Homo sapiens: one gene and its partner. The protein of the gene in region 1 interacts with the protein of each later gene in a pairwise test. Each region holds a gene or a part of one and is shown on either strand. Other genes may lie near its edges.

Evidence for each region. The genes of interacting proteins can lie anywhere in the genome.
Region 2: the proteins of PLEKHS1 (region 1) and ERN1 interact in binary tests that used the Homo sapiens proteins (3 or more experiments, as listed by UniProt).

Annotation. Positions count from the first base shown.
Region 1 is NC_000010.11:113,761,674-113,768,699, reverse strand, and holds part of PLEKHS1 (pleckstrin homology domain-containing family S member 1), read right to left. Parts: intron 3,882-7,026; exon of another isoform or gene 3,320-3,881; coding exon of another isoform or gene 3,310-3,319; intron 2,290-3,309; coding exon 2,201-2,289; intron 2,089-2,200; coding exon 1,982-2,088; intron 1,356-1,981; coding exon 1,221-1,355; intron 1-1,220.
Region 2 is NC_000017.11:64,043,145-64,050,170, forward strand, and holds part of ERN1 (serine/threonine-protein kinase/endoribonuclease IRE1 precursor), read right to left. Parts: intron 6,059-7,026; coding exon 5,911-6,058; intron 4,842-5,910; coding exon 4,714-4,841; intron 2,339-4,713; coding exon 2,215-2,338; intron 1,784-2,214; coding exon 1,716-1,783; intron 1,057-1,715; coding exon 844-1,056; 3' UTR 1-843. UniProt on the Homo sapiens protein: Serine/threonine-protein kinase and endoribonuclease that acts as a key sensor for the endoplasmic reticulum unfolded protein response (UPR).

The DNA.
Region 1 (7,026 bases):
AGAATTTTTCCTAAGTAGCTTAAATGGCCTCGCCACCTCCACATTTGCACACTAGAATTAATGCTCAGCCACCTCTGCAAGGAAAGCTCAGAGAAAGGGAAGAAAAGTAGAAAATAATAGTAGTAATCACAGGGTTTGGGGCTTTCGGCTTTGACATTGATTTCCTTTGTGTTCTCAAGCAAGCCCCCTAACCTGTCAGTGTCATTTTTGTGTAACTATGCAGGTGGGCCTTCCCTTAGGGAGTGCATGTGTTGATGAAGAATGTGCTTGAGTGAATTTGTATAATCACATCTTTTCTATGGACTCACAGGACAACTTAAAAGGAAGCTTTGGTCAATCTGAAACAGATCAGGGTTTTTCATATGTTGGCTTTGGCATTGTCCGCCTCCTCTGCACAGTCTCTCCCACACCCGCTTTGCCTCTCCCTCAAGCAGATAATCATCCATGAAGAGTCCACTAGGCACCTTTGCTAGGACCAGAAGCCCCTCTTAAAAACTGCAGACTACTTTGGGGGCAAGCCTAGTTCCTCCCTAATATATGTAGCTTGTGTAGATGTTTTTGTATTGGGTTCTTTTACATGGAATGCTTCTGGGGTGATGGTGACTGTTATCGGTTGAAATGTACCCTCCCCGCAAAAATACAATGAATTTGTATGTTTCAGTTCCGTATCCCAATACTTCAGAATGTGACCTTATTTGGAAAGAGGGTTGTTGCAGATGTAATTGGTCAAGATGAGGTCATACTGGAATAGAGAGGGCTCCAAATCCAATATTACTGATGTTCTTATAAAAAGGGGAAATTTGGACACAGAGCTATGCACACAGGGAGAACGCCATGTGAAGACTGGAGTTATGTTGCCTCAAGCCAAGGGAACTACCAATAGTTAGGAGAGGCCCCTGGAACAAATCTTTCCTTGGAGTCTTCAGAGAGAGCATGGCTCTACCCATACCTTAATTTCGGACTCCTAGCCCCTGGAACAGTGAGACAATAAATTTCTGTTGTTCAAAGTTATCCAGGATGAGGTTCTTTGTTATAGCAGCCCTAGGAAACTAGCTCAGTAACTTTTCAAGATATTTTTAAAAATAACTAAGATTGCCAAGATGGCATTTGAGGTTTGTAGCGTGGGTTCAGAACATGTTTATTGGTATAAAATGTTTTGTTTTTTGGTTTGTTTTTGTTTTGCATGCAGTAGATATTCTGTGTTATCTTACTTCTCTCACCTGTCGTGGCCAATGAGGAAGTATTCCCTGTTAGTGGTTCTGATGGACATGACCTCATCAGGGTGGCATTTAAACATCTTCTGCACAGATTGCATCTTTTCCTGGCTACTTATGCCAACTTCTACACTGGAATTTCTATTAGATATAGACACAAAGTATTAAACCAAGGTAAATACAGAAATAGAAAACTAATATTTTATATTGGGATTCAAATGGAATAAAACTTTAGATGTGCTGGATCCATGTTTCCAAGATTGTCCAATAATTTTAGAAGATAAGTTTGGATTTTTTGATCTGGTTAATTAATTGAAATTATTTTGTTTAGCCTAAGATTCAAAAATTTCTATTTTAATTGGATTCTTGATTCCACAAATTATGTTTTTCAATTTTGGGGTGCACAATTTATTAAAGAGAAGACCAAAAAAAGCTGATCTAAATATTTTTTAAAACTCTATCTTGACTTTATAAAATGACAATTTCATCTGCTCCCTCTCATCCACAAATTATGTGAATCAAACTCCTTAACTGAATGCCTGTTAATTAAAGACTTATCAAGTATGACATACAATATGAAACAAATATTCAACTATCTTTTAACTCAAAGTGCTCACTATTTTAGCTCCTATTCAGTCACAAATATTATAATCAGCTTGAAGCAGGTTCCTTTGGTCAATTATGTAAATTTCAATTTGCATGCAACTTGTTACTGTTTGACTTTATAGTATTTGTTGTTATAAAAGTTTTCCTGCTTGGATACACACTGATCAATTTCAATGGAACCTCGGTGATGATGGTCTTTATAATAGGAAAGACTAAAGCTCTTTTCCCCAGCCTTTGACAGGATGAAAAACCGCTTTTTCCAAGAGGTCTGAAAAATAAAAAGATTTTATGTCTTAGTTAAATCTCAGAGGAAAAGAAATGATTTTTAAAAATGCTCATGAGGCTGGTGGGAGGCTTGTTAAATCACAGCAAATACTTACCACAGAGGAGAACAGCTGAGAAGGTGGTGATTTAATAAAGTAATCTTGTTTGCAGACTTCATTTTCATAAGAAAATGTAAATTGTTTGCCTAATAAAAGTGAACAGAACTCAGTTTGTTCCTCATAAATTTCTGAAAAGAACTGCCTCAATTGGAAAACACTGTTTATCTCTGGAAAGACCTTCAGATTATTCAGTAGTTATGGAAAAGGACACCTATAATAACCCAAGAAAACAAAGGACCAAATGTATGATTCTTATTCCTCCACAGCCGAGACCTTCATTCAAACAACATTTGAAACCATGTTAATTCAGCTCACACCTGTCTGGCTTTCTGTTTCTAGAGTATGTCGTTGGCTCTCTACGTGTGAGCAAAGATTTGGCTGTATTTCCATTGCAGAAGCATGATAATTCTGCATTGCCCTTTGGCTTAGCAAACAAGAGCAAAAGCACCTGCTATTAAAAATGAAGTGGCAAAAACTATCTGGGGAAGGGGGACAGGTAGAGTTGCTGCAGAAGTTGGAAAAGGAGTGAAGGTAAACACAGCCACCTCCCCAGAATTACTGGATACTATCCTAATAGCCCCAGCTATTACCAAATACTGTATTACCAAATCTTAAGTCTGTTTTCACTTAATAAAGAAGCTCTAATTTTTTTAGTAAAGACTGCCCTTTCCAAAACTGAGGACAAACTAAACCTATAGCCTGGATGTGAAAGCAAATCCAAGCTAAAACAAAAACAAAAACAAACCCAAAATGAAAACAAAAATAACAACACTGTGTTTAACAACATTGTGTTTTTCTAAATAGTGAATATGATACATATTTATTGTAGACATTTTAGAAAATATAGAAAATATTAAAACTGCCTATAATTTCATCACTTATAGAGAAGCAGTTAACATTTTAGAAACTTCTTTATTTAATCACTTCTGCCACCCCGTTTTCAATAGTGAGTGGTTTTGCTTTTGTCTGCTAAGCCAAAGGGCAATATATACTGTCTCCCTCAAGTATTCAAGAGTGTCGATTAACACATGTGTGTGCTGAAACTACCTGAGGCCAGAGAAAGAACCATTAAAATACATCAGAGATTCAGAAAAAGTGCTTGTTACCTCCAGCCATACTGGAAAAACTTATAATTTACAGGGCATTGGGTAGAGTACTCAGGAATGTCTTGCCTCAGTGTGAGGAATAATTAGCTCTACACTAATTACTAGTTCTACACTGAGCACTGCTCCAAACCCACCTAAAAAATCATGAAAGACTTAGAAGAAAGTTGTTCCCAAAAAATTTAACTGTATCCCAGAACAAAGCTCAAGATTCATAGGAATACAAAGATATTCAGGAAACAACAAGGTAAAATTTGCGATGTTTGGCAGTCAATCAAAGTTTACCAGGCATACAAAGAGGAAGGAAAACATGATCAATAATGAGAAGAAAGTCAATCAATCAAAACAGGCCTAGAACTGACACAGATGTTAGAATTGGCAGAGAAAGTAATTAAAGCAGTTATTATCACTATATTTTCAAAAAGTTAGGGAGAGATATAAAAGATATAAAGAAGACCTAAAGTGAAATTTTAAAGATGAAAACTACAATGTCTCAAAAAAACAGCAACAACACTGGATGGGAGTAAGAGCAGATTAAATATTGTACAAGAAAAGATTAGTGCACTTAAAGGCATGGCAACTGTAACTAACAACATAAACAAAGAGTTAGAACATAATTTAAAACTCAGAAAGAGCACCAGTACACTGTGGACAATTTCAAGTAGCCTAGTATATAAGTAATAGGAGTCCCTGAAGTGAGAGAGGGAGAAATAAAAAATATCTGAAGTAATAATGCTAACAATTTTATAAACCTAAAACTATAATCCCAGAGATCCAAGCAGTTCAATGAATCTCGGCACAAGATACACAAAGAAAAGTACACCAAGGCATGTCATAACTCAATTGTTCAAAACCAGCAATAAAGAAAACAAATCTTAAAAGTAGCCAGAGGAAGAAAAGACCTATTGCATACAGAAAAAAGACAAGAAACAGAGATATTGATTTCTCATCAGAAAAAAAATGCAAGCAAGAAAAAGTAAAACAATATATTTAAGGGTTGGGTGTGGTGGCTCACAACTGTAATCCCAGCACTTTGGGAGGCTGAGGTGGTGGATTTCCTGAGATCAGGGGTTTGAGACCAGCTTGCCCAACATGGTGAAACCCTGTCTCTACAAAAATACAAAAATTAGCCGGGCATGGTGGTGCAAGCCTGTAGTCCCAGCTACTTGGGAGGCTGAGGCAGGAGAATGGCTTGAACCTGGGAGGCAGAGGTTGCAGTGAGCCGAGATAGCGCCACTGCACTCCAGCCTGGGCGATAGAGTGAGACTCCATCTCAAAACAAACAAACAAACAAGCAAACTATATTTAAAGTACTGAAAAAATACTCTCATTCAAAATTCTATATTCAGCAAAAATGTCTTTTAAAAATGAAGGCAATTTAAAGACTTTTTAGATATATAAAGGCTGAAATAATTCATCATTAGGAGGCTTGCAGTATAAAAAATGTGAAGGGAAGTCCAGGAAGAAGGGAAATGATAACATAAAAATCTGAATTTAAACAAATTGAAAGCACTGAAATGGTAACTACTGGGGTAAATGTATGAAATTATTTTCTTATTATTGAAAACATTAAAACATTAACTGAACAAAAATAAAGACAATGTATTGTGCAGATTATAACATATGTACAAGTAAAATGCATTCCAACAGTAGCATAAAGGCCAATAGGGAAAAATGGAAATACGCTTTTGTAAAGTTCTTTTATTATATGTGAATTGGTATACTATCACTTGAAGTTAGACTGTGATGTGTATAAACCCTAAAGCAATCACTAAAATAACAAAACAGAAAGTAATGACTAATAAGCCAACAAAGGAGATAAAATGGATTCATAAAAAATTCGATTATTCCAAAAGAAGGCAGAAAAGGGGGAAAGGGAGAACAAACAACAAATAGGACAAACAGAAAATAAATAACAATATGATACATTTAAACCTGACTATATCAGTAATTATGTTAAACGTAAATGGTCTAAACACCTCAATTAAAAAACAGAGATGACCAGATTGGATAAAAAAGCAAGACTCAACTCTATGCTGCCTGTAAGAAACACACTTTAAAGATGAAGATACAAGTGGGTTACAAGGAAATAACTGGAAAAAAAGATATGCTATGCCAACGCTAGTCAAAGAAAGCTGGAGTGCCTATATTAACATCAATGTAGATTTTAAAGCAAATAATATTACCAAGGACAAAGAATATCATTTCATAATAAAGGGATGAATTAATCCTAAGAGGACATAAAAATTTAAACATATATGCCCTTATAACATAGCTTCAAAATACATGAAGCAAAAACTGATAGAACTGCATGAATAAATGGACACATCCGCAATTATAGAGATTTCAATATCCCTCTCTCAAGAACTGATAGAACAAATAGTGCTAAAATTGATTTTTTAAATTTTGGATGCATTTTTAATGTTTTAAATAATAAGTTTGCTAAGAGTTTTCATTCAAGAAGAGTAATGCTGGCCTCATAGAATGAGTAGAGAAATATTCCCTTCTCTTCAATTTTGTAGAAAATCAGCAAGAATACAGTAGGCTTGAACAACACTACCAACCAACTTTAACTGATTGATATTTATAGAACATTCCACTCAATGACAATAGAGTATACATTCTTCTCAAGGGCACATGCAACATTTATTAATATAGATGTATTCTGGGCCATAAAACAAGTCTCAATAAATTTAAAAGCATTCAAATCATATAAATCATGTTTTCAGAGCACTATGAAATCAAATTATAAATCAATAACAGACCTCTTAAAAGATCCTGAAATAAATAATCTCTAAATTTAAAAAATCCCAAAAATAAATTAGAAAGTTTTTTGAACTGGATGAAAATTAAAACACAAGGTATCAGAATTTGTGGATGCCACTAAAGCAGTACTTAGGGAAAAATTTTTTAATGGCTATGTTAGAAATGGCCATGTTTGAAAAGAACAAAAGTCTCAAATTAATTACCTCAGCTTCCACCTGAAACGTTTCAGGAAACTAAACTGAAAAAAAAAAAAAAAAAAAAAGGAACAAATCTAAAGTCAATAGAGGAAGGGAGATAATAAAGATAAAAGTGGAATTCAATGAAAGAGAACACAGAAAAACAACAGAGACAACCAATGAAACCAAAGTTAATCCATTAAAAAGATTAAGTTAACAAACCTCTACCTAGGCAGATAGACCAGAAAAACTGGAGAGAAAACACAATTTGCCAATATTAGGAGGAGAGAGGGGACATATCTACAGAGTCTACTGATATTAAAAGGATAATAAAGAAATATTATAGACAACTTTATTCCAATAAATTTGGCAACTTAGGTAAACTGAAAAATTCCTTGAACTACACCAACAAAGGTCACTGAAGAAGAAATAGATAACCTGAATAGCCTCCTATAGTTATTAAAGAAATTGGAGTTGTAGTTAAAAATTCTTCATATAGGCCCAAGTGGCTGTACTGTTCTCTTTGATCAAACATGTAAGCAAGAAATAATCAATTCTACACAAAGCCTCCCAAAAAAATTGAAGAGAAGGGAATATTTCTCAACTCATTCTATGAGGCTAGCATTACTCTTCTTGATTGAAAACTCTTAGCAAACTTATTTAAAACATTAAAAAATGCATCCAAAATAAGTAAAAATAAATAAAACATCCAAATGGAAAAGAATGAAATAAAATCATTTCTATTTGCAAGTGACATAATCTCATATGTTAAAAATCC
Region 2 (7,026 bases), on another chromosome or scaffold:
AGGCTGGCCCCTGTCTGGGTCTTCGCTGCTCTCCTTGAAGGCCAGGGAACTCTTTACCTCTTGCCCCAGGCGCTCCTGAGCACCACCCCGAGATGGCCCGGGACACACCCACCAAAGGCCACTGTTCTGGCCACTGGCACTGGGCCACGGCTGCCTCCAGAACAGAGCAGCCTCTTCATTTCTGAGACCTGCAGACACAACCCCACCTGCCAGCATGCATAGCTGACCAGTCCCTAATGCCACACCTCATGCTCATGGCTCCTGCTGCCTCTGCAGAAACACTAGTTAACAGTGACCTGGGCTACTCTGGGCACATCTGTGATCAATGAGAAATCTCACACTGCAGGACGACACCCTCTGAACTCCGTCCTCCCCCTCCTCAGCATCCCCCACCTCTCAATTCCGGTCTCCAGTGAAGGCTGTACTTGGTGCATCTCAGCCTAGCTGTCCCAGCACGCAAGCAAAATGTACGATTCCCTCCTCTCCCTTCCTGAAAGGCCTGTAGACTGACATTAAGCAGGAATTTAAAAAGTCTGAAGCAAGTTTATCCAGTAGATGGCTGGGGGTGCTACTCGCGCTGTCTCTGAGGCCCTCCTTTGCAGACATCATGACCGTAAGGCTTTTGGGGCCAGCATCTTCCCAGTTCCCTGTAGGTCACGAGGGGCCACTTCTCCCACTTCCTGGGGTCAGCACTGTCCTCTGTGGGCTGCAGAGCAGGCAGCTCAAGGCACTTGGTTTGGGAAGCCTGGTCTCCCTGCAAAGCCGGGAGGCATCAAGCTCTAATTGTGGTGACCAGGCCCTCAGTCACAGCTGGGGCCACCAGAACAGAGGGGCCGCCCTCGCTCAGAGGGCGTCTGGAGTCACTGGGGGCTGGGGCTCTGGGGGCTCGTGGAAGTAGTAGGGCTGGAAGAGTCTCTCGTGGCTGCACAGCTCCATGGCCCGGTAGGTGTGTGCGAGGAGGTGGGGGAAGCGAGATGTGAAGTAGCACACGAAGTCGTCGGGGAGGGACCCCAGCGTCTCCCGCACCTCTGCAGGCAGCTCCCGGTAGTGGTGCTTCTGCAAAGAGTTAGAAAGCTCGGGAGATTAGAAAGGGGTTAGAAAGCTCGGGAAATGTTGGCAAAACACCCTTTCATCATGCAAGGAAGAGACAGAATGTGAGTGTTGGTTTTTGGTAAAGAAAAAGAAAAAAGGCTTATGTATCCAAGAATCCAGCCCCGTCATCTCGCCTGCTACCCTCACTCAGGAGGAGGCCTTGAAGTGAGCAAGGCCCAGCCAGTCCAGGGGGTGCTCAGGCCTTCTGTGACAGTCAGGACCTGGAGACACTCCTGGCCACCTCAGGAGGAGTAAAGTCGCCTGAGATTGGAGTGTCCGTCCCAGTGGGGTCCCCGCATTTGAGGTATGTTTATACATGTTTACACACAGTGGCTGCATCAGACAGGGAGAGGGCCCCACAAAAGTCAGCGACCAGAGACCATGAGGGACATGGGCCGCAGAGCACTGCTTCCCGGAGCTTCACCTGCACCTACGTCCCTGAAGGGAAAATCAGCGTAAGAGAGGCAACAGCCTGCAGTTTGCCAAGTCCAGCTGAAGCCGCCTAGCTCCTGAGAGATGAGAATGCCAGTACAGATAAAAGATTTATAAAGAATGGATGAAAGGAGGAAGGTGTCCATGTCATGGCCACTGGGTCTCCTCCCCAGCATTTACAAACTGCTTACCTTATTTCTCATGGCTCGGAGGAGATCTCTGACAGAACCACCTTTATAGGTCCTGAATTTACGCAGGTCTAGAAAAACATTGAGGGAAGCAATGGGTAATCAAATTTAAAACTAATACATTTTAAAAGAAAACAATTCATGGGGTCCTGGGATTAGGGAGTTGGACTGAAAGGTGAGGTCACTCCACACCTAGGCATGGGAGCAGATCCTCCCATCCAACCCAAGGGTGGTATCCCCCTGAACCCCACCTGGTGATCACACCCAGGTCAGAAATGACCACCTAGAGCACGACACCATCACTCACCTGTCACTCTAGGGAACAAAAATGAAACACACATCAGTGTAACCAAACCACAGAGGACACACCCAAGAAAGTCTCAAACCTGACAGGTGGGATGTGGGGCCTGAACAGCCTGGAGCGGCCATTTCCACGTTTACTTTTTGGAAAGGCGGCAGCGACTTTTGCAACCTGCCCTCTCACACGCTGCAGCATGATCACCTGTCTGGAGGGGGACAGTGATGTTCTCCCGCCAGTCCATCTTCACCACGGCTCTCCCGCCTCTCTCTAACTGCTTCACGATCGGGCCATCCAGGGATTCCTTTTCTATTCTGTCGCTCACGTCCTGTGAGAGAAACAAGGGCAGCAGATGATGGTCAGTGCTGGAGATGCTGAGAGCTGTGCGACTGGGACTCAGTAACAGATCATCACTGACACATAAGCCTGCCCCAGAGCTGGGCAGCAGGCACCCTGCCCCCTCCCTCCCTCATCCATGACTTTCCCTGTGAGCTGCTCTGTTCCTCACGAAGCACAGGCCCACAGAGAGCTTCTCCCATGTCAGAGAGGTGTCACAGAGTACACCTGCATATAGACCACGAACGCATACCCTGAATTTCACATGTGCACACACACGCCATGTGTACGGAGCCGCAAGTGCAATCTATATCCAATGAACCAAAACCAAAAAGAAAAGGAAAGCTCAGATTTGATGTGCATCCCGTGCTTTGTCTACTCACTGAAACAGGGTATGCTCAAGCCCATAACTGGTGGAGGGTCGCCACTCTTCCCTCCACCAGTAGAAAAGACCTGTGAAGCTGGGCCTTCTTCTCAAAGAGGAAACTTGGTGGCAAGAGTATGGGCTCCAGAGGCTCCTGTTGGGATTCAAACCTTGCTCTGCATTTGACTTTGGTAATAAGGAGAGGGTCAGGAAGCACCCAAGTATGGCCTCTTGAAGTCCCACCAGTAAGACAGGTCGACAGCTGAGGACACAGGGAGTGGTGAGCCCTGTCTACATCAATGTTAAGTAGCCTTAGGAGACCCTTTTCTCAGAGCAGCCTTTTCTATGATGAAGATGAAGCCAGACTGGCTGAACTCCTAATTTACAATTGTCAGAGAGAAGCTGTGGAGAGGTTAGATTGTCAACTTGGGTACACTGGGAACACACGTGTCTGAGCTGCAAAGCTGTTACGGCTAAATGACCTGAGTGGAAGCCAGGTGTGTTCGAGAGACATATGACCTGGAGATACTAAGCATTTAAATCCTGTCCCTTGGTGGGTGAAGGTCCCTTTGTGTGGGTTTTATTCCTGTTCTATATTTTGCGATCAAAATGACCTGGTTAGTTTTCACAAGTCCCTGGAAGACATATGGACTTGAGAATTTTCACATTATGTCCATGGACACAGTGACCAATCCATATGCTACAACATGGAAGACAGCATTAAACTCTTCCCAACCCGATCCATCTGAATGGTTGGGCCAGGCAGCGTCCTCCCTAGGAGGCAGGGACACAGTAGTGAATGCAGCAGTCAAGCACTCCTGTCCTCGAGGAGCTTACATTCTGGGGGCTTCCCTCTGGCCAAGGCCCCAGTCAGACCCCAGGAGAGCATGATGGTCACTTCTCAGTACGGTGCCCACCAAGCTGCACTCTGCCTGGACCCAAGGGGAAAAGCACTGCCCCACAAGCCTGCTTTCAGAGCCACGTGCTGGGCAGGAGGCGTTCGGGTGAGTTATGTTCAATTCATACATGGAAGACTTTGAAAAACACATTACCTCTTCAAAAGTCACCTGACATTGTCACAAAGCTTTAAAACAGTCAAATCACCAAAGGAGTTCTAACTTTGCAGAACCTATTTTAAGCAAAAGGAGATCTGGGCCAAGACTGTGTAAAAGATGATAGAAACAAATACAATATAAGAAAGCACTGAAATTTATGACACTTGGGCTGGGCCTGGTGGCTCATGCCTGTAATCCCAGCACTTTGGGAGGCTGAGGCGGGCAGATCACCTGAGGTCCGGAGTTCAAGACCAGCCTGGCCAACATGGTGAAACCCCATCTCTACTAAAAATACAAAAAAACTTAGGCAGGCGTGGTGGTGCATATCTGTAATCCCAGCTACTCAGGAAGCTGAGGCAGGAGAATCACTTGAACCCGGGAGGCAGAGGTTGCAGTGAGCCAAGATTGCACCACTGTACTCCAGCCTGGGTAACGGAGTGAAACGCTGTCTCAAAAAAAATAAAAATAAATAAATAAGCTTATGACACTTGAATGAAATTATATGATGCCTGAGATTTACTTCGAAATAACCTGGGGTGGGGAGAGGGTGAAGGTTAATATTTATTGAACCTGAGGGATGAATAAAGGAGTGCTCATTATAGCATTTAAACATTTATGTATTATATATTTGGAAATTCCATAATATAAAGCTTAACCATTATGGCACATCCATATGATAGAATACTATGGTCATTGGAATTTTAGAACTTTAACATGAAAGAAACTTAAAATATCATGTACAGTTAAAAAAAGGGATTCTGAAACTGTATATACGGTTAGATCCCAATTATACTTTTATATATGAAGAAAACATTAAAACATCAGCCATGATTATCTTCCAGTTTTAGGGTAATGGGCAATTTATTTTATTCTTTGTCCTTTTCTGTATTTTCAAAATCTGAAAAACATTAAATGAAGACTCTGGATAAAGAGAACAGACGTCTCTACCTGGAAGAACTGGAGCTGCTTCTCTAGGCTCCAGAAGAACGGGTGTTTGAGCACATGCTTCGCTGAGGGGCGTTTCTGAGGATCCATCGCAATCATCTTCTCTATCAATTCACGTGCAATGACGTCTTCTATAAAGGAGGAAAATAAGCAACTCATGACTACCAGTCCAAAGCCACAGTGAAATACCAAAAACTTTAAAAAGCTGCACACCCTCTCATTTATGATTCTATTTACAGGAATTTATTCCAATAAAATAATTAGGAACAGACACAAAACCTCAGCCAAAGAGGTGAGTCCTCACTGCATGGTTTGTGAAGGAAGTGACTGTAAACATCCAGTATCAGAGGCCCAAGTGGATACACTACGGTGCCTCCCTACGCTGGGCCATGAGCTGTTAAAGTGCGGCTGTGACTAAATATGGATTGACGTGGAGAGAGATTCAAGGTGACGCTGAAAAACGTGCATGCTGCAAAACAGTATGCAGGATTTAACTGTATTTTTATAAAATATGCAATCACGTCTAGATAAATGACTGGAATAACGTATATGCAAAGGTATCAATAGCCATCATTCATCCCTGTATAATGGGAATATATGGGCCTTTATGCTAATCTGTGTTTTCTATAATAAGAAAAATTAAGCATAAACAAAACAATAATTTAGTTGTAATTTTTTCAAAAGGCAGCACTGGAGTGTCATGGGCCAATTACCACCCAGGAAAACCTGAAGTCTGGAAGAAAGACTTGTTGCACCCATACCAGGAGACCAGGAGGGTGAGGATAAAGCTTGTCTGTCCCCAGCCCAGCACAGACTGCACCTACTGACCACTCGCCATCCCAAGAGAGAAGACAATTTGTCTTCCCAAATGCCAGTGCAGGAAGGGACCTCTGATTATTCAACCCTCATGTCACCAGGTAGAAAAAGAAGGTCTCCAAAGGGGGCTTTGCCTAGGTCACACAAGTAGTTGGTGACCTGGAGGAACCTTGGAGCATCTCAGCTTTAGAAGGTGGCGCCCCAGAGATAACCCTACCAACCCTCTACCAGATTTGGCACAAGTCTGGAGGTCCTGAGGCCTGCGGGGTGAGCAGCTGGGGCACCACGGCCTCTGTGAGTGCAAAGGTGGCACCAGCCCAGCTCTGCAGGGCCACCTGAGGCAGCTGAGGAGCTGCTCCCAACCCCAACCCCTGGACCGCTCACCGTGCTTCTCTGGGTGCAAGCAGTCAAGGCTGCAGGCACCCAGGAGGATGTTGGCCTGCCGCTGCAGGGACTTGCCAAAAGGGTGGCTGCCCTCAGAGATTACGTAGTAAAAGACGCAGCCTGCAGAAAAGATGTCCACCGTGTAGGTCTGAAAAGAGACATGAGGCGTGAGAGGTCTGGGAGCAGAGTTTTCATCCTCACTCACAGTCAGGGAGGGAGGAGCATTGCTGCTGCTTCTGCCACCTAGAAGGTGTCCTGGGAGAATCAGCTGACATATGTGAGCTGCACAGAGCAGCGAGGGCTAACCTGCAGCACTGCATGGGTGTCAGAGGTCCCAGTGGAGAACCTGGGCTTGGAGCCACCTGGAAGCCCCTGGTTCCCTCTCATGTGAGATGAGGACACTGACAGCATGGGGCTGTTGTCAAAAGAGATGCATTAATATGCAAAAATGGTTGCTTACGACAGTGCTTGGCCCATCAAAAGCCCTCCTGGCTGTTATATATTCCTTACCCCCAACACGAAAGTGCTCACAGACAGGGTCTCTGTGTCGTTGCTTCCCTGCTGTACCCCCAGGGCCCAGAATGGTGCCTGCACACAGTAGGTATCAAAATTGCTAATAAGTGAATAAAACAGCTTATGATTCAAAAACAGCCCTAGAAAGAAACTATCTGACAAGTTACCAAGGAGGTCATGTTTGATGTTAATCCGAGAAAGCCTCTCACTTATCCCATGAAACCATTCTGTGTCTACAGAATAGCTTCCTTCGAGGGAAATGTACGTTTGTGTTTTTTAGCTCATGCTACCTGGGGTGTAATACCAAGGTGGTTCCTGAGCACAGCTTGGGTCCCTGTTAGTAGGCCCTGCCTCTGAGATTCTCCACCAGGTGAAGTGAGGGTCTAGTGTGAGGAAGCAGGGGCTCATCACCTCCCATGCTGGAGGAGACACACCTTGAACAACACAGCACTCTCATTCAGCCTCACAACAACCTTGTGAGGCGAGCAGAGCAAATGCTTTCATCCCCAGATGAGAACGTGGACAGAAAGGTTGCATGACAAGCTCAGGGTCACTGCTGGATGTGATAAACCAGGATGGGACTCAGGTCTTCCAATCTCCAAA